Linked DNA regions of Homo sapiens: regions 2 and 3 are each linked to region 1. The links come from fine-mapping of genetic effects on gene expression. A gene starts in region 1. Each other region holds a variant in brackets. All regions are shown on one strand. Distances are from middle to middle.

What was found.
Region 2: its variant is fine-mapped to the expression of HHIPL1 in testis (GTEx, PIP above 0.99).
Region 3: its variant is fine-mapped to the expression of HHIPL1 in fibroblasts (GTEx, PIP above 0.99). The same link has a PIP of 0.9 or more in caudate and prefrontal cortex.

What each region holds. Positions count from the first base shown.
Region 1 is chr14:99,641,574-99,649,747 of GRCh38, reverse strand. HHIPL1 (HHIP like 1) reads right to left here and starts at 4,619. Exons shown (of 9, transcript NM_001127258.3): 1 at 4,286-4,619. The coding sequence starts at 4,540.
Region 2 is chr14:99,675,587-99,683,760 of GRCh38, reverse strand. It overlaps HHIPL1 (HHIP like 1), which reads right to left. Exons shown (of 9, transcript NM_001127258.3): 9 at 3,192-8,174. The coding sequence ends at 8,135. Among named protein-coding and RNA genes, the nearest start is that of CYP46A1, 4.6 kb to the left of the region's middle. RefSeq lists enhancers at 899-968, 6,415-6,977, 6,978-7,541, 8,105-8,174. The variant AATATATTAT/T (reference allele first, on the strand shown) is at 3,177.
Region 3 is chr14:99,666,058-99,674,231 of GRCh38, reverse strand. HHIPL1 (HHIP like 1) reads right to left here. Exons shown (of 9, transcript NM_001127258.3): 7 at 5,929-6,010; 8 at 1,833-1,915. Among named protein-coding and RNA genes, the nearest start is that of CYP46A1, 14 kb to the left of the region's middle. RefSeq lists enhancers at 1,871-2,470, 2,471-3,072, 3,073-3,672, 4,614-5,155, 6,354-6,513. The variant T/C (reference allele first, on the strand shown) is at 3,407.

The DNA of each region.
Region 1 (8,174 bases):
CCTAGCTCACTGTAGCCTTGACCTCCTGGGCTCTAACGATCCTCCCCACCTCAGCCTCCAGAGTAGCTGGAACCACAGACGTGCTCTACCACACCCGGCTAATTTTCATTTTTATTTTTTGCAGAGACAGGGTCTCTCTATGCTTCCCAGGCTTGTCTTGAACTCCTGGGCTCAAGCAATCCTCCCGCCTTGGCCCGCCAAAGTTCTGGGATTATAGGCATGAGCCACCGTACACGGCTTGACTCCTATTTTATAGATGAGGAACTGAGACTTAAAGAAGGCCACGTGCCAAGAAGTAGCCAAACCAGGGCTCACACCCAAGCCTCATGATGCCTGGACTGGTGTTCTTTCCAGATTAGTCAGCAACATTTCATTCACCAAGAATTTACTGAGCAGAGATTGTACCAGGCACCATCTTGGTTCCAGAGACGCAGTGAGGGGCAGAACAGACATCTGGAAGGCAACGAGAGCCCTCCGTTCACCAAAGCCCAATCCAGAACTACAGAGGGAGCAAAAGTTCCCTCAGGGAGCCAGGCCGAAGACCTCGGCATCCGTGCGTCCCAATCACACAGCAGATGCTTCCTCGTGGCCTATGTACTCTTACTTACACACGACGTAAATGTGGTGCCCAGACCAGGGTAGTCCAGAGCTAGGAAGTGACAAGAAGACATAGTGATTGCTGCTGGCAAGAGGATGATCCGCAGCTTGGCCTCAGTGTGTTTAGGGGCAGGTGGCAGGAAGGCCATAGGAAACCAGCCCAGTATCGCAGGCTTCAGCCGCCCGGGCCATTCAGTGCAGGGCGGAGGGCCCCCATCTTGCCCAGAGTTTGCCACCCCCATGTCACTGACACTCGTGACTCATGGCCCTGGGTCCTGAAGGTTTCTTATGTCCACCGTTCATTTTTTGAAAGAGCAAGCCTTTGCACAGTGTCCTGTCCATCGGATATTTGCTTCTCACCTACTTCCTCATCTGGCAAACTGCTATTCATGACTCAAGGCCTACTCAAAGGTCTCCTCTTGTCCTCCATGCTCCCAGGGCTCTGACTGTCCCATCCCTGGCCCTTATGGATGCTCCCAATGCACTCTGTCCATATCTCAGACACGACACTCACTCCATTGAATCTTGTAGCTTACAGGGTGAGTTCTCTACAGCAGTCACTGCTCCGTCGCCAGGGGCGCTCCAGCCAGTCAGCTTGGCTAGGACTTCATTATCTCTTTGCATGTCTGTCCACTCCACGGACTGTGGGACACAGTGGGGCTTCAAGGAGGGAGGCAGTGTGGCAAAGCGGTTAGGAGAATGGCTTTGGAGCCAGCGCACACATTCCCCATGGGGAATGCTCCTTAACCTCTTACTGCTCTTAACCGTGGGCAAGCTCCTTAACCTCTCTGTGCCTATGTCCTCATCTGTGGAAGGGGAAAGGAATTCCAACCTCATAGAGTTGTTGGGAGGAACAAATGGAGAAGATGTATGTGTTTGTTCAGTAAATAATGAGCTATCAACATGCAACCAACATTCAGGAAGCCTTCCCTGAGGTATGTGGCCTTGTTCCTACACTCCTTGAGGAATTTCTGGCACCTTCCTGTGTGTGTCAGTCTCCTGAAGTGATGAAGGGGATTTTTGAGACTGGGCCTGTGACTTGCCAACTGTTTTTGGGCCCAGCATCCAGCACAGGGCTGCCTCCTAACAGGCTCAGGAAGAGCCTGCTGAATACATGAGCCCATAGAATACATTTCATGGAGATCTCCATCAGAAACCATGCTTTGATGATTTTAGTGGCTTAGAGAGGCAACCCCAGTCACAGGGGAGGTTAGCGATGTGGAAGCTCACACCAGATGCACTGGGGATGCCACGTGCCATGGCTGTCCTCTCTCCTCCAGAGGACACAGGCACTTACTGGACAAGCAAAGCCTCAGGAAAGAGTCTCCCATCCCCCCAAAGCAGGTGTGAAGGCCTGAGTGCCTCCACACTGACAGAGACCTATGAATAAGGCACCTCCACCACCTCCCCGTGTGGAAATCAGGAGGTGCCAAATGCAGACTCTGCCTTGGCTAGCAGAGAGCATGGTCCTCCCGCCAGCATGCTCCAGGAGGCCCCGTCAGTGAAACCATAACCCAGCCTCAGCCGCCGTCTCTAAGCTCACTCCAGACATGAGGTCACTCTCAGAGACGCCTGGGCTGAAGTGTTAGTGGTCACTCCTGCTAACTGCTGGTTGCTTAAAGCCAGGCTGTCCTGGGAAGTTTCCCAAGAAACCTGCCAGGGGACAGCATCAGGACTGACCCTTCCCTTCCTCCATCCACCTGCCCACCTCACTGCCGTGCTGAGCCTGGCACATAGCAAGTGCTCAATAGACAAATGTGGCATGGATGCAGGAACTCTGCTATGTGATGGGGGTAGGGAGACCAAAGGACCTGGTCCTGAGGAGCCCCCAGGCTGGTGAGGGAGGCAGACGCTTGGCCAGACCATTCCCGTGCCCTTGAGGTGTACAGCATGGGAGTCCAGCAGAGCCCACCTAAAGGTGGCCAGCCCACCCTCTGTTGCATTCTGGAGCTCCCCAGGGCCCCCTCCTCATCCTCCCAGAGTCTACTGCTTCCCACCTAAGATATGAGCTCGCTTCAGCGAGTGTGGTCCATGTCCCCACCTCAACCACCGCTGGGCTGTGCGACCACTGGGCAAGTCCCTGCCTGCCTCTGAGTCTTCCTTGATTCGGGCTCCAAGCCTCACCTGGACCCTTCCCAGGGCTGGGCAGCCAGTGAGGGCCAAGGAAGCCCTCGAGAAATCCAACTGCAAACACTTACCGAGCCCCTAGTATGTGGCATTTAATCTGCATGGCCACCCAGGGGGGTGGTTAAGGTTTTATTTTATTTATTTTATGTATCATATTATATCATATTATATTATATTATATTATATTATATCATATCATATCATATCATATCATATCATATCATATCATATTATATTATATTATATTTTTGAGACGGAGTCTTGCTCTGTTGCCCAGGCTGGGGTGCAGTGGCTCAATCTTGGCTCACTGCAACCTCTGCCTCCCAGAGTCAAGTGCTTCTCCTGCCTCAGCCTCCCGAGTAGCTGGGATTACAGGAGCTCCCCAACATGCCCAGTTAATTTTTGTATTTTTGTAGAGATGGAGTTTCGCCATGTTGGCCAGGCTGGTCTCGAACTCCTGACCTCAAGTGATCTGCCCACCTTGGCCTCCCAAAGTGCTGGGATTACAGGCATAAGCCACCATACTCAGCTTCATTTTAAAGATATTGTGAGGTGCAGCAGTGACCTGCCCAGGTCACGAAGCTGGGGAAGTGACAGAGCCAGGATCAAACTCCAACTCCAAGTCAGCCTTCTTGCCCTTCCCCACACCACCTGCCCCTGCTGGCCGAAGGCTGGGACACGGCCCTGGCCCCTGGGGCCTCTCCACCCCAGGCCTCTCACTGCCCAGATGCTGAGGCAGGAATGCCTTGGGGCTGCCCGTCCTGCTCCATTTCTGCATTCAGCCAGGCAACATTTGCCCACTTGGGTGTGGTCAGGCCCTGGGGCCTCAGACTCCCACAAGAGGAAAACAAATAGCGGTGGCACCACCAGGTGTGCACAGAAGCAGGGGCTCCACCCTCAGAGGGAAGATGGGGGGCCCAGGGGCTTCAACAAAGAGCTGTCGCTCAGTCTTGAGAGAGCTTCTGCAGGCCAGGGCGCCATCCCCAGGAGAGGGCACAGCACCCACAGAGGTGGTGGCGGAAGTGGCAAGGGCATCAGGATGGGGGTGAGACGCTCGTGGGGGACAGTGGCCCCAACCCCCTCAACAAACCCGGGCCACACGTTGACCACGCCCACGCCAGGGCCCCCTGCTTTCACTGCCCCGGGGACAACACAAAGGAGCACTGACCGGGACAGATGCCTCTCCACCTTGGTACCCCGACAAGGGTGCAGCTGCTCGGGGTGGGACGCTGAGGGGTCGACTCCAGGGGACTGGGGCAGAAGAGCCCCCAACCTCTGAGGAAATGATGACATCATCTGTCCGTCCGTCCGTCCTTCCTGCTTCAGGAGGGGAAACTGAGGCCCCGAGAAGGCCCAAGTCACAAAACTAATGAATGGCAAAGCCAAGAGTCGTCCTGGGATGCGCGGTCTCCCCGCCCCGTGCCAAATGACTCCCTGTTGGGGCTTAGAGTTCCCGAGTCCGCCGCCCACTCTTGGCCCTCGCCCCCGCGGGGTTCCGATCTCTGCTCCAGGACTCGGCCTCCCGCGCCCCGCCCCGCCCGGTGGCCGCGCGCCCGCTCACCTGGCACAGCAGGTCCCTCGCGTAGCCGGCGCACGCGGCCCACTCGGCGGCGTCCACGCGGCTCGCCAGGGCCCAGAAGCGGCGGGTCAGCTCGGCGTCGCGCCCCTCATCGCAGCAGCCGAAGTCCGAGTACTGCGCGCAGAGGCGCAGCGGCTGCGTCGGCCGGAAGGGCGGCCTGAAGTCCAGGCACTGCGGATGCGCGGCGGCCCCGAGCACCCAAAGCGCCAGCAGCGCCCCGGCCCTGGCCCGGGCCATCGCTACGCCCCGCGGGGGAAGAGGCGGAGGGACGGCAGCCCCGGTCCCCTCCCGGGGCGCTCGCGGCGGCAGGGAAGGGGCGGGCGCTCCCCTTCCCTACACGCAGGGCCTCGAGTTTGGGGACCTCCCCTTCTAGGAGGTCACCTCTGGTCGGGGACACTCGGCGGGACTGAAGGAAGAGGGACGCGGCGCAGAATGCGGCACGACCTCTTTTAACCGCTTTCCAAATTCGATGGGAGTGGCCCGGTCTGTTTAAAGCCCCGGTGTGTTTTCCCGGTTCCGCCTGGGGCCCTGCTTCCTCCCCACAGGGCGCTCTTTAGCCAGGGAGGCGCAGGGCCAGAGGCCTGGACTCCTGGGCTTCGGTTCCACCTCCCACTGGGCTAGGGAAACGGATGCCCGCAGCCCGTCCCCGAAAGCTCCCACGTAACATTTTAAAAATGGGGGTGCGAGGGAAAGAACAGGGGGTGTTGCCCCAGGACTCTCAGGGAGAAGTGAAACCTGGCGTAGGGGTGGGGAGGGAGGACGGAGCAGTCTCCGCAGTCCACCCTTTGCCCTTACTGTGGGCTTCTTCCCAGTCTCTGCTCCTGGGGCAGCGGATTCTCCTGCAGCCCAGGACCCACTGGGGCTCCCCACTTCCACTCTCGCATAGGGAGCACTGATGAATCTACCTCCTGGGATGGGCATCCAGCCCTTTGTTCCGCTGCCCCCGCTGGAGATTCAGACCCAACCCCGCCCCACCCCCCCACACACATACAGACGCACACACGCTGTCTTACCTACCCCAGAATCTCATGGCACCAAAACCACCCACACAGACAAACACACACACACTGTCTCACCTACCCTAGAATCTCACAGCACCAAAACCACCCAGGCATTTTTCTCAAGTGGACCTCAGCGTTTGCTTCTCCCTGGAGTGTCCTTCCCCATCTTCTCTGTCCAGTGAGCTCCTACTCCATCTTCATGGCCCCAACGCACACATCCGTCCTCTGCAGGTCTCTTTGGACTGTCCTGGGGGATCATGTTTCTGTCTTTGGGCCCATGCTCCTGGCAGAGCTGGGGGTGGATGAGATGCGGCAGGGCTGGAGCACTCAGAGGTCTGTGGCTCTGGCCTGAACAGGTGCAGTGTAAGAGTCAGGGTCTCCGCACAGCCAAACATCTCTGAGTATTTGAAACACGGGGAATTTAACGCAGGGACTTGAAGCCAAAGAGGCTAAGAAGCCATACAGGGCTCAGTGAAGTAACCTTGAGATCAGCAACAGTAGGAACAGTCCCCAGGTCCTTGATGCAGGAAGAGCAGATGTTACTGGAGCCAAGGAGCTATGGTCACCTTGTCAAAGCTGGACCCTCACAAGGCCTGTCTGGCCACAGCTGGAGATAGCCACTGTCAGAGATTCTGCACAGACAGAGGAGGAGAAATACCCCGGCTTCTCCCTGCCACTTCCCCTCCAACTCCCACCTGTGGCTTTCATTGGCTGAACCTAGCAGAGGGCTGCTAGGGTGGGAAATGCGGCCTGCAACGGCTTCCTGCACAGACAGCTGGGAATAGGCAGAGCCAGGATGGAATCGGAGGGCACGATGGCGCCTACTTCCCAGCTGGGACTCAGAACTGGGTGATAGTCACACATCAACACAGGGCTCCAGATGAGTGTACAGAGGTGGAAGTGACACAGAGCCTGGGCCACAGCCATGAGGTTTGGGCTCCTACAGCCACAGAAAATGTCAAACACAGCCCAGCCCCAGCCAGAGTAACATAAATCCTCACCCTAATACCTATTTACCTCGGTTTCTGTTATCTAGTACATCCTGATTGGCTTTCCAGAAAAACAACAAGGCATGAAAAAAAGATAAGAAAAGTCACAGTCAGGAGCCGGGCACAGTGGCTCACGCCTGTAATCCCAGAACTTTGGGAGGCTGAGGCGGGCGGATCACCCGAGGTCAGGAGTTCGAAACCAGCCTGGTCAACATGGTGAAATCTCGTCTCTACTAAAAATACAAAAATTAGCCAGGCGTGGTGGCACGCGCCTATAATCCCAGCTACTGGGAGGCTGAGGCATGAGAATCGCTTGAACCCAGGAGGCGGAGGCTGTAGTGAGCTGAGATCGTGCCATTGCACTCCAGCCTGGGTGACAGAGCGAGACTCTGTCTCAAAAAAGAAAAAAAAAAGTCAGTCAGAAGGAGCATCAGAGCCAGCCTGGGACATGACACAGATGCTGAAATTACCAGACATGGAATTTAAAATAACTATGACTAATATGTTAAGGGCTCTGGTGGAAAAAGTTGACAACATCAAGACCAAACATCTCTGAATATTGACAAGGACATTGGCAAGGACAAATGGGTAATAGAAGCAGAGAGGGGTCCACTTTAAGAAAAAAAATGAAGGCCGGGCACAGTGGCTCATGCCTGTAACCCCAGCACTTTGGGAGGCCAAGGTGGGCGGATCACGATGTCAGGAGATCGAAATCATACTGGCTAATACGGTGAAACCCCATCTCTACTAAAAATACAAAATTTAGCCGGGCATGGTGATGGGCGCCTATAGTCCCAGCTACTTGGGAGGCCGAGGCAGGAGAATGGCGTGAACCCAGGAGGCGGAACTTGCAATCAGCTAAGATTGCGCCACTGCACTCCAGCCTGGGTGACAGAGCGAGACTCCGTCTCAGAAAAAAAAAAAAAATTAAAAGATATATTAAAAGTCAAAAACAATGTAACAGAAATGCCCTTGCCGAGCTGACAAGTAGACTGAGACTGCCGAGGAGAACACCAGTGAGCTTAAAGATGCGTCAGCAGCAGCTTCTCAAACTGATACACCAAGAGAAAAACAGAAGTTACAAAAACAAACACTAGAGCATCCAAGGACTGTGGAACAATTTCCAAAGATGTAAATACAGATAACTTGAAAATGGGAAAGAGAAGAAGGGGAAAAAAATGGCAGAAGAAATAGTTGAAGTAAAAATGGCTGAAAGGGCAGGCACAGTGGCTCATGCCTGTAATCCCAGCACTTTGGGAGGTGGAGGCGGGCTGATCACCTGAGGTCAGGAGTTCGAGACCAGCCTGGCCAACGTGGAGAAACCTCGTCTCTACTAAAAATACAAAAATTAGCCAGGCATGGTGACGGGCGCCTGTAATCCCAGCTACTCGGGAGGCTGAGGCGGGAGAATCACTTGAACCCAGGAGGCAGAGGTTGCAGTGAGCCGAGATCACACCACTGCACTGTAGCCTGGGCCACAGAGCGAGACTCTGTCTCAAAGAAAAAAAAAAAGGCTAAGAATTTTCTGAAATTCATGACAGATACAAAACAACAGATCCAAGAATCTAAGAGGCATAAAGCAGGATAAATACCAAAAAATCAACAGCGAGGCATATCCTATGCAAACTGCAGACAACCAAAGATGAAGAAAAACCTTGAGAGAAGCCAGAGGGGGAAAAATACCTTACCTATAGAAGAACAAGGAGAAAAATTACAGCAAACATTAGAAACCAGGCAAGCAGGCCGGGCACGGTGGCTCACGCCTGTAATCCCAGCACTTTGAGAGGCTGAGGCAGGTGGATCACCTGAGGTCAGGAAGTCGAGACCAGCATGGCCAACATTGTGAAACCCCCGCTCTACAAAAATACAAAAAATTAGCCA
Region 2 (8,174 bases), 34 kb before region 1:
GGGCGCCTCCTCCGCCCGGACAGTCCACGCCTAGCGCCCGTGGTCCGCCAGCGGGGCCCGCGGGCTGGTGGCAGGATCCTGCGGGACCCAGGGACGCCTGTGTCTGCGACCGAGAGCGCACGGCGTGGCCGGAGGCTGTTCTCCCAGAGACTCGGGGGCCTGCGGACCCTCCTAGACCAGGCGAAGCCCCATCTGAGGCGCTGGCTCAGGCCCGAAGGAGTTGGAGTTGGAGGGATGAAAATCTGGGTCCGCCCTCCAGGGAAAGCGGGAAATGTGCCGGGGAGGCGGGGGTAGCGGAGGAGAAGGTATTTTCGAAATAATGACCAGGGCTTCCCCCTCTGTCGTAACCCGCGTCTCCTTGCCCATCCCGTATGAAGATGAGGCCAATTCTGGGCGTTTTAGTTCCCAATTCCTATCCCGAGGGACCACCCAGCGTGAAAGTCGTGGCAGGGGAAGGCCAGGTGTGCCCACTCCTAGCCCAGGTAAAGGTCCCCCGGGCTGGAGGTAGAGGCCCAGGGAGTGTAGATGCTGCTGGGTTTCTGAGAAGAGGCAATGCCCCTGCCCCACGCTTGAGCCAGTCCTGGAGAGGTTGGGGGTTGGAAAACGAAGGGGACCTTGGTACCGCCTTCCCAGGTATAGTTAGGGACATGGGACATGGCTGTTAGGGGTGTGGGCTGAGGGGCGACGGAGACGGCCAAGTCTTAAGAGCCGTGCCCAGCACGGAGGAGGCGGGACTTCTGCCCTCGGGGCCACCGCAGCCTGGACAGGTGGGCAGCAGAGCATCCATCCCCCCGGCGCCTGGCCCGGCCGCCCAGTTGGACTCGGGGATGTTGGCTTGCTATGGCGCCCCCGTGTGGCGGCGGTGACAGGCAGCCGCAGGCCCACAGGGTAACTCAGGCTGGCCCTGCTGGGGTGAGGTGTGGAACGGAGCCACCAGGTCCCCTGTGGGCTGTGAAAGCTCCGGGGCTTGAGGGCAATTTGGAGGGAGGATGAGGCTGCAAGAAGGAGGGTGTGGATTCCTGCGCACTGGAAGGTGGGTTGGGGTGGTTAGCTAGAAAAGAAATGTGACGGCATCACATTTAGTATCCAGTTTGTGGAACGGCTCCCTGAGATTACACAGTGCATCGCACTGTCTGAAGAGGACTTTCTCTTGCCTTGTCTCTCCAGACCCCTGGAACAATGGTACTGTTAGCAACAGCAAATCCATATGGGTCTGCAGCAGCCTCAGTTCTTGCCTCCTCAGAAGAAAGAATTCGACTGAGGGGCGTAAGGCAGAGTGAGAGGCAAGTTTTAGAGCAGGAGTGAAAATGTATTTAAAAGTTTTAGAGGCCGGGCGCAGTGGCTCACGCCTGTAATCCCAGCACTTTGGGAGGCCGAGGCGGGCGGATCACGAGGTCAGGAGATCGAGACCATCCTGGCTAACACGGAGAAACCCCATCTCTACTAAAAATACAAAAAATTAGCTGGGCGTGGTGGCGGGCGCCTGTAGTCCCAGCTACTGGGGAGGCTGAGGCAGGAGAATGGCGTGAACCCGGGAGGCGGAGCTTGCAGTGAGCCGAGATTGCGCCACTGCACTCCAGCCTGGGTGACAGAGCGAGACTCCGTCTCAGAAAAAAAAAAAAAAAAAAAAAAAAAAAAAGTTTTGGAGTAGGCATGAAAGGAAGTAAAGTATACTTAGAAGAGGGCCAAGCAGGTGACTTGAGAGAGGCAAGTGTGTGGCTTGACCTTTGACTCGGGGTTTTGTAGGTTGGCATGCTCCCGGGGGGTTGCATCTCTCTTCGCCCCTGATTCTTCCCTTGGGGCGGGCTGTCTGCGTGCGCGGTGGCCTGTCAGCACCTGGGAGGGGCCGAATGCACAGCTGTGTTTACTGAAGTTATGTGCGCGCTCATTTGAGGTGTTTTTCCCTTACCGGTGTTCCTAGAGGAAGGTCATCTACCAGTTAATCGCTGCCATTTTGCCTCTTAGTGTGCATGCTTGAGCCCACTCGCCCAGCTCCTGAGATCTTATCGGGAAGCTGATCACCAGCTTCAGGTGTTTCCATCTGTTGGGAGACTGCCTCTCCCTGGCACTGGCTGCGACCAATTATTATTTGAGAGAAGCAGTTTATCAACTGCCTGACCATCATCTGATGGCCACTTGACATTCCTCGTTGGGGGAGGGCCCTCTCCTGCCCTGCTCATGTCTGCCTGACTACCTACTGTCACAGTTCCTTGAGGGAAGAGCCAGGTCCTGAACAGCTCCAGGCACAGCCTGGAGCCCCACAGAAAGCAGGTGTAGAGCAGCATCAGGGAGCAGTGGTCAGCGTGAACCTCTCCAAATACGGCTAAGGAGAGGAGTGGGCATACGTCTTCTCTGACACATCGGGCAGCACCAGTGATCTCTGGCTCAACATGACCATGGCTTACCCCAGGAGCAGCACTTCCAGAGCAGTTGCCGTTCCCATCTGTGAGCCAACAGTCTCCCCTCTCCCTAGGCACCAAGCCCACAGCTGTCCCATCACCACCTCATTTGATGCTCCCAGCTATCCTGTGATCAGGTAAGGGAACACAGGCTGCATACCAAGGCTCCAGGTCCCAGGGCTGAAAGCCCTTTTCCTGGGTGGGCAGCGCTGCCTGGAAGCACGTGGCCAACCACCTGCTCCTTCACTGGAGGGTCTGGAGTAAGCTATCCAATGTGGCAGCCATTGGCCACATGTGGCTTTCTGGTACTTGACATGTGGCTAGTCCAATTGAGATGTGCTATGTGTAAGATACACACCAGATATCATAGATTAATACCAAAAAAGAATGGAAAAAAAAGGTCACCAGGCACAGTGGCTCACAACTGTAATCCCAGCACTTTGGGAGGTGGAGGCAATAGATCTTTTGAGAACAGTAGCTCAAGACCAGCCTGGGCAACATAGGGAGACCACTTCTCTACAAAAAATGAAAACAAACAAACAAACAAAAAAACTGGCCAGGCATGGTGGCATATGCCTGTGGTCTCAGCTACTCAGGAGGCTGAGGTGGAGGGATCACTTGAGCCTGGGAGTTTGAGGCTGCAGTGAACAGTGATGGGACCACTGCACTCCAGCCTGGGTGACAGAGCCAGACCCTGTCTCAAAAAAAAAAAAAATTGATATTTATATATAGGTACCTGTTAAAATGATAATATTTTGAATATGTTGGGTTAAATAA[AATATATTAT/T]TAAAATTAATTTTACCTGTTTTACTTTTTTAACATGGCTACAAGCAGATTTTAAATTACCTATTTGGCTCACATTATGTTTCTATTGGATAGCACCAGTATGGACAATGACTATGGCCCCTAGAACAGGAGGATTAGCATTACCCAGGAGCTTCTAGAACTGAAAATTCTCAACCAAGACTGAGTCAAAAACTCTGAGAGACAGGACCCAGCAACCTGTGTTTTAAGCAGCCCTGTAGAACTTGATTCTTCTCAAGCTTGAAACCCACTGGTGTAGATGACACCATACGAGGAGTGGTTTCCCAGCAGGAATTGTTGGGGAGATGCAGGCATAAGAGGTGGCTCTGAATTGGCTGCCTTTACATGGGTGGCCTGGCAGGGTGGAGGTGCTGTATCCCAGGGAAGGAGAAGGATCCGGCTCTGGGAGAATGGGCCTTGGTGCAAACCTGCCTCTAAAGCCCCGGGGACCACTTACATAACACCCTAGGAATCTGTCCCCTCATCTGGAAAACAGGGACAGTGATATTGAGGGTGTCTCGTGGAGCTGTTGTCAAGATTAAATGAGCTGACACACCCGAGGTAGCTGGCATGTAATAACTGCTCAGTAAAAGCTAGTTCTCAGTGGGGGAGGAGGGGCGAGGGGACAGAAGCGCGACAAGAAGACTTGAGTTCTACATGTTAGGCTGAAGGAGCTCTTTCTTCTGCTATTGTGAGAGTTTCTTCCCATGTCATTCTGATGCTGGTCCTTCACGTGGCATGCCCCTCCTCACTCTGTCGCAGACAGTTGGCTGCTGCCAGCATGGATGCCACCAGCCTCGAACTGAGCTTTCTGTCTAGGAAGCAACCTAGAGTGTACGTGCCATGCACGTCTGCAATGCTACCTCATTTTTCATCCAGTAATCCTTCTGGTGACCTCTATTTTGCAATGAGACTCAGAGAGGCACAGAGCCAGGACTGGAACCCAGTTTCCAGCTTCCTTGAACCTCCCAAACATTTCTAAGGTATCAACATGGTGACCCCTAGGCTCAGTCTAGGGCCTGGGATGTTGTGACCTCTGACTGATGTCTTGAACACAGTCCTGGACACTGGGCCACCCCTGCAGCATTGACCCTGAGGCTCCAGCACTAAGCTGTGTGGCACTGGGCAGGGCAGCCCCTCTCTGAGAATCTGATCCTGGCTATTGACTAGAGGTTGGATTAGAGGGGGTGAGGGTGAAGGCTGTGCCCCCATCCTCAGAGGCCCTGGAGGACTTTAAGGCAAGATCGGAGTCCCTGGGGACAGAGTCACATGTGAATGCTCCCTCAGCGGCCAGCTGTAGGTGGTGGAGTGAAAGAAGCACTGGACAGGCAGCCAGCTCTGCCCTTCTCTGAACTTGTGTCCCAGTGGGGTGGGGCTGGCTTTCAATGCCCTTGAGGTGGCCCAGCAGGAAGGCCCACAGCAGGGTCCCAGAGCTGGACTACCTGGGCTCAAATTCAAATTTTGGCTATGTGACATTTGGTAAGTGACAAATGCCCTGGAACTCGGCTTCCACGTGAGTAAATGTGCATTAATATGAGGATTACATGAGTGAATGGTATGTTAAACTTTCAGAGCAGTGCTTGGCATGTAGTAAGCGCTCAGCAGAGGTCAGCTGTTGTAGAAAGTAAAAGTTCCTCTTGAAAGTTTCCCTTCTTGTTAAAGAATAAATCGTAAGTGTTAGAAATAATGGTTTCTTTTAAAGACGAACTTCCTTCAAACCTCCTTGCTTTATGCTAATAACTCTTTGTCAAGCCCTATTCTATGTAACTGTTAGACGTGCTCACAGGCACATAGTACGTTCTATGTCCTTATACTTTAACCAAGATATCTGTGCTGGACGTGCTCACAGGCATGTCCCAGCTCACAGCCTATACCCCTTCCTTATTTGGGAATATTATTACTTTTCTAAGTCCTTTCGTAAGCAACTTCCTCTTTTCCTTTATCCTTCCATTACTTTTACCTATTTAGAAAAATTTTAAACAGCCAATCGGGTTTTAGTTTAGATTGTGCGGTCTGGCTTCTGCCAATGGACATAGGACACAGTAGCAGGGACAAACTGCATAAGGGCTAACAATTGCTTCCCTCCTTTGTTCAGGTGTCCTCTCACTATTGTTCCATCTGCGATGAGCACCCTTTCTGCAGAAAGTAAAATTGCCTTGCTGAAAGAATTAAATTTATGTTTTAGTGCTATTTCTTTCCAGCATCGGGGAACAAGTATTTACATATAACAGCTGTCCACTCTTATTACTACCTAGGGCAGAGGTCTCCAAACCCTGGGCCACGGACCAGTACTGATGGGTGGCCTGTTAGGAACCGGGCCACACAGCAGGAGGTGAGTGGCAGTGGGGCAGGGTAGTGTGGGGAGCAAGCATTCCCACCTGAGCTCTGCCTCCTGCCAGATCAGCAGTGGCATTAGATCCGCATAGGAACATGAAACCTACTATGAACTGTGCATGCGAGGGATCTAGGCTGTGAACTCCTTATGAGAATCTAATGCCTGATGATCTGAGGTGGGACATTTCATCCCAAAACCATCCCCCCAACCCCCATCCATGGAAAAATTGTCTTACATGAAACCAGTCCATGATGCCAAAAAGGTTGGGGACCACTGACCTGGGGACTGTGGAGTGAGTCCCCAGGAGGCAGGCTGCAGCCTAGCCCAGGCCTGGTTTGGGGCCTGAGAGGTGATGAGTTGGAGGCTGGGGAGGAAGAGCGCCTGGCCTGGAAGACTGAAGGCCAAAGCCCGAACTGCCCAGAGAAGTACTGGAGGGCCTGAGGCCGCACCCAGAGCTCCCTTTGCCAACCCTCCTAATCCAGCTCTGAGCAAAACAGCTTCTGGGGCCAGGCAAGCAGGGCCCTGGCTCGGCTGCATTCTTGAGGGCCTCAAGGCTTGCTGCACCTTCCCTGGCTCCAGTCTCAGCGTGGCCTCATCTGGCAACAGGCCTGGGACACTCAGCCTCCCTGAGCTCACTTCCTCATCTGCACAGTGAGGAATTCGGCTGGGATGGTCATTAACGGCCTGCTATCTCCTAACACGCCCGGCGTCAGAGCTCAGAACTCCCCTGCATCCCAGGAAGATGCCCACTCAACCTCCCCTGGGCCACTGGAGGCCCGAGAGGAGCATGAGGCCAGCAGCGGGGGCACCTGCCAGGCAAGAGGAGCCCCCAGGGATCTCCATCAGCTGCTTCCCAGCCAGGCTGGCACTCCCACACCAGGCAGGAGCCCCAGCACACCGCTCTCTGCAGGCATAGTGTAGCTGGGGAGGGCAGTGGTTAGGGTGCGGGGACTCTAAACTAAGCTGCTGTATTCAAACTTGACTTCTCCCTTCCCTGGCTTGGTGCCCTAAGATATCTAACCTCTGTGTGCCTCAGTTTCCCATTCTGTAAAGCACAGAGTATGAGGAGTCCAAGACAGTGACCTAAAGCTTTCTGCTGCAGCCCAGGATCCTATACTAGTGGCTAGGAGACCCTATACTAGCAGCTAGGAGACCCTGCCAGACTCATGCCTGCCCCAAGGCCTGCCCAGCCACCCCTGGTGCCAGCTCCCAGAACTTGGCACAGCATCACCCCCTCCCAAAGCCCCCCCATAGGTTGGGTTTGGGTGCCCCACCCAGACCTCTTCCAACCCCCGACATGGGCCACATCCTGTCTTCACTGCCTGGTGACTCATCTGCTTACCCACCCCCCACCCGTGCTCCCATCCGAGGCTGAGCGCAGTCATACTAAGTGCCCCTCTGCGGCCTGGCACAGAGCCAGGGCCGAGCATCCCTGGAGTGAAGGAGCTTCCACCTGTGATGCAGGTGGGAAGCGGGAGGCCTCACCCCTTTCTCCTGGTTCCCACCCCGGCTCCCACACAGGTGCAGGTCAGAGAGGAGGCAGGAAAGTGGTGTGTAAACAGCCACATTATTGGCATAGCCCTGGGTGAAAAAGTGTCAGTAGTTTCACTGGACCCCCAGCCTGGTCAGCCCCGAGGTAGGGCTGGAGGAATCAGGTCTCCTGGGTTTACACTGAGCAGGGATGGGGATGGAAAGGACAGAGGTGGCCCCAGGGCCCAAACACAGCTTTGAAAGTAGTGGAGGCCCACCGACTCACTGGAGGGCCAGGGTGAAAGCTCTGCCCAGCTAGTGTGGGTGGCTTCTGCCCCAAGAGCAAGAGAGAATCAGGCCTCAGGGTTGGAGGAGGCTGGTCCCATCCCAGGAGCACCCACAAGGACTGAGTATGCTGCTGAGTGGCTTCTCCAGCATACGGCCTTGGAGGTCATCCAGTCCTCACAGCCATCCTCCCTGAGCAGGTGCTGGCTCCTCCACGCAGCCTGCCCCTCCAGTGGGGCCCCAGGCCTGCAGCTCACCCTGCTCCCACCTTCCAGAAGGCTTTCCCTTCCCCACTGGATGCCTTCCGGTTCTCTCCAGCGCCTCTGACTGCCAGGGGGTGGGGGGGATGCGGGCACCAGGCCATGCTGTCCGGGCCACATTCCTCAGGCCACCCTCCGGCTGTTCTTGCACCTTCCATTCCAGCTGTGGGCAGGACAAGCCTGGTTCTCCCCACCGCCCTCAGTCTGCAAGCTGTGCCTCTGTTAGCACAGCCAGGGGCCATGTCCGTCCTCGAAGCCTGGCTGCCCTCCCTCCTCAGGGTCCCACAGCCCGGCTGCTGTTCCTGCTGGTGTCTGAAACGCTTGGAGGTAAGAAAGGAACTCCTCCCGCCCATGATGGACCATGCACTTCCAGAGCCCACACCGCCCCCAACACACACTCCTGCCTTGGGTCTGCAGAGGACACACATGCACTGCAGCGCCTCACACATGTCCCCAGGACAGCACACACCCGCACCCCCTTCACTCTAGAACACGTGTGCACCCGCTGGGCGCACACAGGGCGGAGCGGCCCCTGCCAGGCTCCCCCGCCGGCGGGATGGCCTGGGGCAGCGGCGTGTTGCCTACAGGTCGGGGTTCTGGTGGCTGCACACGACGCCCGCA
Region 3 (8,174 bases), 24 kb before region 1:
CTGTTCAATTACTATGGGGAGGATCCTGGGGCCACCAGGCCAAACCTCTTTAATCCCGCCCCACTTCAGCCAGTCCCACTTTGAAAACCACTGAGAGAGAGCTGAGAAAGGGCCTCTCAGCACAAGGCCAAGCACAGGCCAGGGCCCAGAGCACCATGACATGGGCAAGGCGCTCCCTGTCCCTGCACCCTGGCCCCTGGCCCCCACCTCCTGCTCCTCAGGCTGCCTCACCTCTCCCACTGTGGCTCTTGCTGTTCCCTCTGCCTGCACTGCCACCCCCCTCGGTGCACCCTCCTGAGTGAACCTCCCTCTTGGTGCCAGCCCCCCTCAGTGCACTCCCCCAGGTGCACCCCCCCGTGCAACCTGCCTGGGTGCATCCCCCAACTCTGTGCACCCCCCCTCCATGCCGCCCCCCTCAGTGCACCCCCCCTCCATGCCACCCCCCTTAATGCACCACCCCCTCCGTGCCACCCCCTCAGTGCACCCCCCTCCATTCCACCCCCCTCAGTGCAACCCCTCCAGGTGCACCCCCCTCAGTGCACCACCCCCTCTGTGCCACCCCCCTCAGTGCACCCCCCCTCCATGCCATCCCCCTCAGTGCACCCCCTCCAGGTGTACCCCCCTCAGTGCCATACCCACTCAGTGCCATCCCCCTAGCTGCCACCCCCCTCAGTGCAACCCCCTATTGGTGCACCCTTCCTCTTCTTTTCAGACTCCAGGAACCCCTACCCCCAACCCCAGTCTCCACTGTTCTGGGTGGGTCCTCACGGTACCTGGCACACACTTCGATCACAAGGCCTTGGACAGTAAATGACATCTCTGTCCGTCCCAGCCAGAACAGGGCCTAGTCTGACTTCTCACTGTGGCTCTGGCATCCAGCATGGAGCCAGTAACTAACAAAAGTGCCAGAAACTGCTGAATGAGTAAATGAAAAACTCACCAAGCCCTGAAACCAACTGTGGCCAGAACTCACTTCCAAAATCACTGAGCTCAGACCCTTCCCCCTCTACCCGGGTACCTCTTCAGCCCAGGTGCCTAGCCTCCCTCTCTTCTTGCCCTCCCCACCCCCATACACACCCAGTCTGCCAATGGGTGGCCTGCTGAGCCCACTTGGCCTGCTGAAATATTTTCCTTGGCTCGCGGAGTGGTTTTTAAAATTCTGAACTAGTCGCCAACACTTTGAATTGGGAGGTTGTACCTAACAGGCTGAGAAGGCGAGGACTGCAGTGTCTCGCCGTGTGCTGTATCCCCAGGGCAGGGCACGTGTCCGTGGTGAATGAGTGGATGGGGGGATTTTCTGCTTCTCTGAAGAATTGGAAGACCTGGCAACACAGGGTCTTTGTTCCCACCTAACTTGGGCCCAGGGGAACAGCCCCAGCCTGGGGCATCCCCTTCCCCCAGTCCCAGGCCCCATGGGCAGTCATTTGTGGCCCTGCTCTGTCGTCTCTCCTCATCAGGCTTGTCAACAATCTATGAAGGCCCAGCCCATATGCCAGCCCCTCCCACAAACAACTCTTCCGGTCTCCCTTGCTTACACACAGATACATCCTCTTTCTCTGTCCCTCCCAAGAACTCACAGAGTACCTTGCCTGGCACCAGCTATTTCTCTCTTGGTTTAAGGAATTGTGACCAATCAAGCAAGACCCAGTTTAGTTAAAGTCCCATCCACCTTACCACCATGTCTAATGTGTGCCAGGCACAGTGCTAGGCACAGGGGCTGAAGAGGGGCATCTAGGTCCAGCTGGTAAGACCCGAGTCTGGCTGGAAAGGCAGCCGTTGTGGGCTGCGGGATCTCTCCCCCAACCCTCAGTGTCCCACTGGCAGGCACTTACTTTCTTTGGGCACAAAGGGGATGAGACGGCTTCTGATCTTCACCTGAGCAGGCTGGATCTGACATTTGCCAGGTGGTGCCCGCCTGCCAACGACACACAGGAGGTTATGAGTCTCACCCTGGGAGCCCACCCTGAGGGTGCCTTTTCTCTACAGTGAGGCAGGTATGAACAGCAACGATAGTAACAGGCGGCCATTCACCATGCACCTACTGTGTGGCCTGCAGCTTCCCTGCCCACTCCATGCCCCCAGGATTCTAAGAGCTCCAGGGCATAAATCCCCTATAACAGCCTACCGGCTGCACGCTCAGCCTCTGCTGGAATAGCACCAGGGCTGGAGGCTTACTCTTTCCCAGGACATTTCTAATCCAGAGCATGGACTCTGTCCTCAGGGTGTGAACAAATGCCAGTCTCTCTCCTCCCACAGCCTGCCGTCTGATTCCTGAAATGCAGCCTGATTCCTGCCCGCCACCCTCTCCCACCAGCCCTACAGCCTTTGAGGAGGGTCTCTCTCTGCCCCTCTGGTTCCTGGATTTCTGATGCAGGATCTGAGAGGCTCCTCTGCCTGGAACCACCTAAAGGACGGGGGCGGCGGGGGTGGTAAGGAAAGCAAGCCTTGTGCCTGGAGGCAGAGCTGAGGGATTTGGGGCCTTGGCATGTGGGGTGTGAGAGAGCAGGGAGACAAAAGAGTCAGAGAAGGGTGCCAGGGCTAGGAATTGGGTCTCCTTTGACATTTTTAAGGGCACAATAGGGAATGGAATTCCGTTTTAATTAGTTTTTGGCCGTCGATCTGTGATTCTTTGGGAATGACCCCATTCCAGGACAGACCCACGTGGGCCCACGACTTCAATAGGATTCCAGTGGAAAGGCCAAGGGGTGAAGCAGCCACGTGACACGGAGTGGCCTCCAGACAGGCTTGGCCGAAGAGGGACACAAAAGAGGGACAAGGGTCTTTGTCCCCAGAGGCTGCAGAAACACAACCAGGCACATACGCTTCTCAAAGCTGCAGGAAAAGCGAGGTTTTTTTCTTGCTCTGACCTCCAGAGAACATCCACACACTTCAGACAGACCCAGTGGGGCTTTTGTTCCTTAAGGAAATTGCATTAAAAGTCTTTGTTATGCAAAAGGGTAGGATATCCACCCCAAAATGCCACAGTGGTTACGTGTGGGTAGTAACAGATGACCTGACCCTACCTCCTCCACTCCCCATTTATTTCATTTTCCAAATGTACTATAATGGGACCTCTGTGTAATATGTGTGGGTGCAAAGAAACAGTTATTCCAAGACAGGAGAATGAAGGGAGAAGGGTCAGGGCGGGAGGAGGAATCTAGCCCACTTCTGGCTCCTAACACAAGACCGTGAGCGAGAGAACTCCTTAAGTCTCGTTGGGGTCCCTCTCTATGACATGGGGACAACAAGCCAATAGGGAAACGGGATTGGAAAAACCGAAGATGATGGCTCTAAGGCAACATCTGGCATGAATTAGGCACTCACTTGGTATATGTAGCATTTCCTCAGAGGAGCATTCTTTTTTGAAAATTGGAAATAACCTAAAATTCCAAGGAATGGGTTATAG[T/C]GACTCAGCAGAAAATCAAGCAGCCATTAGAAATGGTTTTTTGGAGGGCGATGTTTGCAACGTTTAGACAAAATGGGCATAAATGAAGGAAAAAGAACCAAGTCTGCGTGTGATCCAAATACAACCACATAAATCCTGGCGCTGCATAGATAACAATGGATGGGACCTCAGGGAAATGAGAAGGAAGGGATGGAAGCAGGAAGTGATTATGTTTTATTTGATAAAAAGTCATGTCAATAATTTATGTGTGCTCTTAAACAAGAAAAAAAAAAGTCTGGTAAACAAGGAAAGTGAGAAGCTGACACAAACAGGGGAAAGCTAAGCAGACGCAACCACTAAAGGCAACACAGGATCCTGGAACAGGAAAAGGGCATTGGGGAACAACTAGAAACATCCTTTGAAAAAGAGTGTGGAGTCTGGGCGTGGGGGCTCACACCCGTAATCCCAGCACTTTGGGAGGCCGAGGTGGGCCGATCACTTGAGGTCAGGAGTTTAAGACCAGCCTAGCCAACATGGCAAAACCCCATCTCTACTAAAAATACAAAAATTAGCCAGGCATGGTGGCAGGCACCTGTAGTCCCAGCTACTCGGGAGGCTGAGGCAGGAGAATCACTTGAACCCGGGAGGCAGAGGTTGCAATGAGTTGAGATCATGCTACTGCGCTCCAGCCTGGGAGACAGAGCAAGACTCCGTCTCAAAAAAAAAAAAAAAGTAAAAGACTGGAGTTGTAGAGTTTAATTAATAGTGATGGACTGATACTAGTTGACTAATTTTGACATGTACACTATGGTAATGTGAGGTGTTCATAATAAGGGACACAGGGTAAGGGGCATACAGGAAACACTGTAGTTTTTACAACTTATCTGTAAATCTGAAACTATTCTAAAATGTCTTTTGTTTTGAGATAGGGTCTTGCTCTGTTATCCAGGCTGGAGGGCAGTGGTGCGATCATAGCTCACTGCAGCCTCGACCTCCTGAGTTCGAGTGATCCTCTCACCTTAGCATCCCAAGTAGCTGGGACTATAGATGTGCGCCAGCACACCAGACTAATTTTTTAATTTTTTGTTGAGATGGGGTCTTGCTATGTTGACCAAGCTGGTCTTGAATTTCTGGGCTCATGAAACTCTCCGACTTCAGCCTCCCAAAGTGCTGGGATTACAGGTGTGAGCCACTGAGCCCAGTGTAAAAGATTTTAAGCACAATAAGTGTTTTAGAATTTTTCTTTTTGTAAAATTAATTAATTTTTTTAGAGACAAGTTCTCCCTGTGTTGCCCGGGCTGGACTTGAACTCCTCCCATCTGCCTCCCAAGAACGTGAAACATGCCAGCTTGTTTCAGGATTTTCCCAAACCTGGTGTGTCTCAAAGTTTAGGGTAACTAAACACAGTGGGGACTCCTAGAGTCTGCCAAAGGTGTGGATTCTCGGAGTGCAACCTCAGGCCTTGCGTTAGAGACAAGTACAAGCTGTGTCCGTACCCAGTGTTGAAGAGACGTTCAGACTGCTGTGGAAGCCAGCAGAGAAGCGAAAATCTAAGGGCTGAGAAGCAGCTTAGAAAGCTGATCACTCATTTATTCATCAAGTGTTCCTGAGTCTCTGCTCCGTGCCATTCCCAGCACCTGGGCGGCCTCTGCAGAGTGAAGAGATACAGGCTTGGCCCTGAGACTCCCAGAGCAGCTGGGAGAGAGTCAGTCGTGTAGCCCAGGGATTACCAAGTCTGAGTGATGAGAGCTGAGGAAGGGCTGGACAGAGGCCTGGAGGGCAACGTGGGTTGGGGAAGGTGCTTGAAGAGGGTGAGGTGAAGGCACACAGCCAAGGGGTTAGGGCAGGGCTCTGGAGCCAGTGGCCTGGGCCCCACCCTGGCCCTGGGCCCCAGGCCCATGACTTCGTGTCTTTGTGCTCATTTCCACCACTGTAAAATGAACGGCTGAGACGTCAATGAGCTGCACACGGAAGGAGCTGGGACATAGCCGGGCATGGCGCTTCTGGCCTTACAGCTAGAAGGGAAGCCGGGGAGATGGAGCCGGCGAAGGGAGCCCCAATGTGTTTTCCCCAGTGGAAGATGGACCACAGGAGGAAGGGCAGGCACGGGGCGGGGACACACAGGGATCAGGGTGTCATCTGGGAGGCATCACAGAGGCAAATTGGGGGCTGGGGTGTGGGGGTGCAGGGGCAGCCCAGGAAATGAGGAATGAGGGGCCTGCTAGACAGGAGGAAGACGCAGGGAGGGCGGGCCAGGCAAGAAAGCCAAGTGAAGCCTCGGCCCGCGGCCCCAGTCACCTCTCCAGCTCCCTCCTATCCTAATAGACCTGTGCTTTGAGGCGTGCAGACCCGGGTCTGAATCCTGGGTCTGCCCCTTGCCGGAGGAACTGAGGCAAATCACGTCCCTCTCTGGGCCTCAGGGTTCTTGTCTGAAAATGGGGATTAATACCACCCACCTGAGGGCGAGGCGGAGGGGACAAGCCCGTGGAGCTAAGAGGCCTGACAGACAGCAGGAGCTCCCTGTCCTGGAGGCTGGGACTCACCTGGATGCGTCAATTATTTTGTAGACAACTCCGCGTGGAGCTGTGGCACTCGGCTCCCCTGTCGACATGAAGTACAGCTCCCCTTTGGACAGAACAAAGTGACTAGTGAGACCCCCACCTGGAATACCGTCCCAGCCAGCCCCGCCTCACCACCCGGCTCCCTGCAGGCTTGGAAATAGACCCCAACCCCAGCTAGCCATCACGTGAGGCATCCCAGCTCAGTCTAGCTGTCCAGTCCCCAGAAAGAGGAAGTGAGGCTGGGTGAGGAGTTGGGTTGTACCCAAGGGCCTCTGGAGCCTGGTCTTCCGGGTGTCAGGCACTCTGCCTGGACCCACCCAGGCTCAGATCTCTGCTCTTGCCTTTTCCCGGTGACCCAGCGCCACCCCTGTCACCTACCTGGGTTTCATGCCCAGCCCCACACACCTCTGGGCGCACATGAGGGGGCTACAGCCCAGCTCCCCAACTGCTTCCAGGGGACCCGCAGGCACATGTGGCTCTCTGAGCCTCAGCTTCCTCATCTCTAAAATGGGCATGCCTCATTGGGCTGTTATAAGGACTGAAGAGCGCAGAGCGTGTGCTTCATCAGCATTAGCTAGCTATGATTGCAGGCGTCATCCGGGATTTGGGCCCTGCCAGGTCCTCGAGGCCAGGGTGTCTCTCTGCTGACAACAAGCACCTCCCAGGCAGGAGCAGAGTACATGGCTGGGAGTGTAGGTCCTAGCCCCTCTGCTTGGCCCCCTGTGATCTCCAGCAGCTGTGTGATGGTCCCATTCTAAGCCTCAACTTCTCCCCATCTCAGAGCTGCGCTGAAAATGTAACCGTTGGAGTTCTGAGCCCCTGGTGCTGAGGACTGTCTCAGGGAACGTGGGTTCTCCCTGCTCCTCCCACTCCAATCCTCCCTCCCAACCCCTGCTGCCAGGGGCACCTATGACCAGAAAATAGGCTGCATTATTCCTACCTCACAGCTGAGAAAAAAAAAAAAGAGGCTCAGAGAAGTCAAGTGACTTGTCCTAAGTCACACAGCTAGTGAATGGTTAAGCCAGGACCAGAACTCAGGAAAGTCTGCTGCCCCAGCCCCACACCAATATTGGATGCATGGTGGCTGGGAGCCCAGACACAAGGCACACATGGCTCATCCTGAGGGTTCAGCCATGCTAATACCTCTGTCCTTGTAAAAGGATAGCAGAGAGCTCAGCTGGACTGGGGGCAGGGAGGGGGGTTTCCCCACGGAGAGGCTGAGACAGACAGCTTGGTAATAGGTTGGAGGAAAGCATATCCCTGGGGACAGGTGCAGTCAGGGAGGGCTGCATGGGGGTGGGGTCTGAGAAGCAAGGCACAGGAAACTTGGGAAGTGCAAAGGGAAGGCACTTGAGGGGTAACTTGTGTAACCGGGGTAGACCCAGCTGTGATGGGGCTGGGGGATGAGGAGAGCAGTACGCTGAGTGGTCAATGGCCCCTGACCCCCCAACCCAGGGGCACCAGTCCCACTGGGGAGGTCGGGGGAGGAGCTGTAGGCACACATGGTGATGATGCAGCCTGCAGCATTGGGGGTCCCCGGGTGGAATGTCCCTGCTGAGAAGTCCATGGGCACAGCCCTAAATTGGCCACACAGCCTTGGGCCGTCCACTCCCCTCTGGGCCTCTTTCTGGAGTGAGCCACCAGGAGCAGCCCTGGTCTCCTCTGTTCCAACCCCTTGAGGAACTCCCTGGTTCATCTGGCCAACCGACCTTAAGGCCCCACTCTGGGAGGTGTCCAGGGGCCAGGCTGGGCATGGTGCCCCTCCTCCATAACCAGGCGTTCATAGTCAGCCACAGTTTCCCCATTGGTAAAATGACAAGGCTGGACCAGGCAGACTGCAAGGCCCCTTCCAGCCGTGATCTGCTGGGAGCTGTAGCCCCCAACCCTCTGCACACACAGGGAGCCCCTGCGGATGCTGCCAAGCCCGCCCAGGGCTGCTGTTGAGACTCAGAAAACAATGCTCCAAAATGAAGGCCTCAGAAGCTGCCTCCGAAGCAAAAGTTTTTCTCTGACCTTCGCCTGTCCTCCCGTCTCTCAGTCCTGTTCTCCCCCGAGGTGCCATAGAAACTAGAATCTCTCTTTCCCATGGCAGATCGTAGAAACCAGCACACATTTCCCCCAAAGCCAGTCATAGAACCTAAAAATATTATTGTAACTCTCCCCCAACCTTTCTGTGTAAAACTGGCCATAAAGAAATTATCTGAGTTCAGGCATGGTGGCTGACGCCT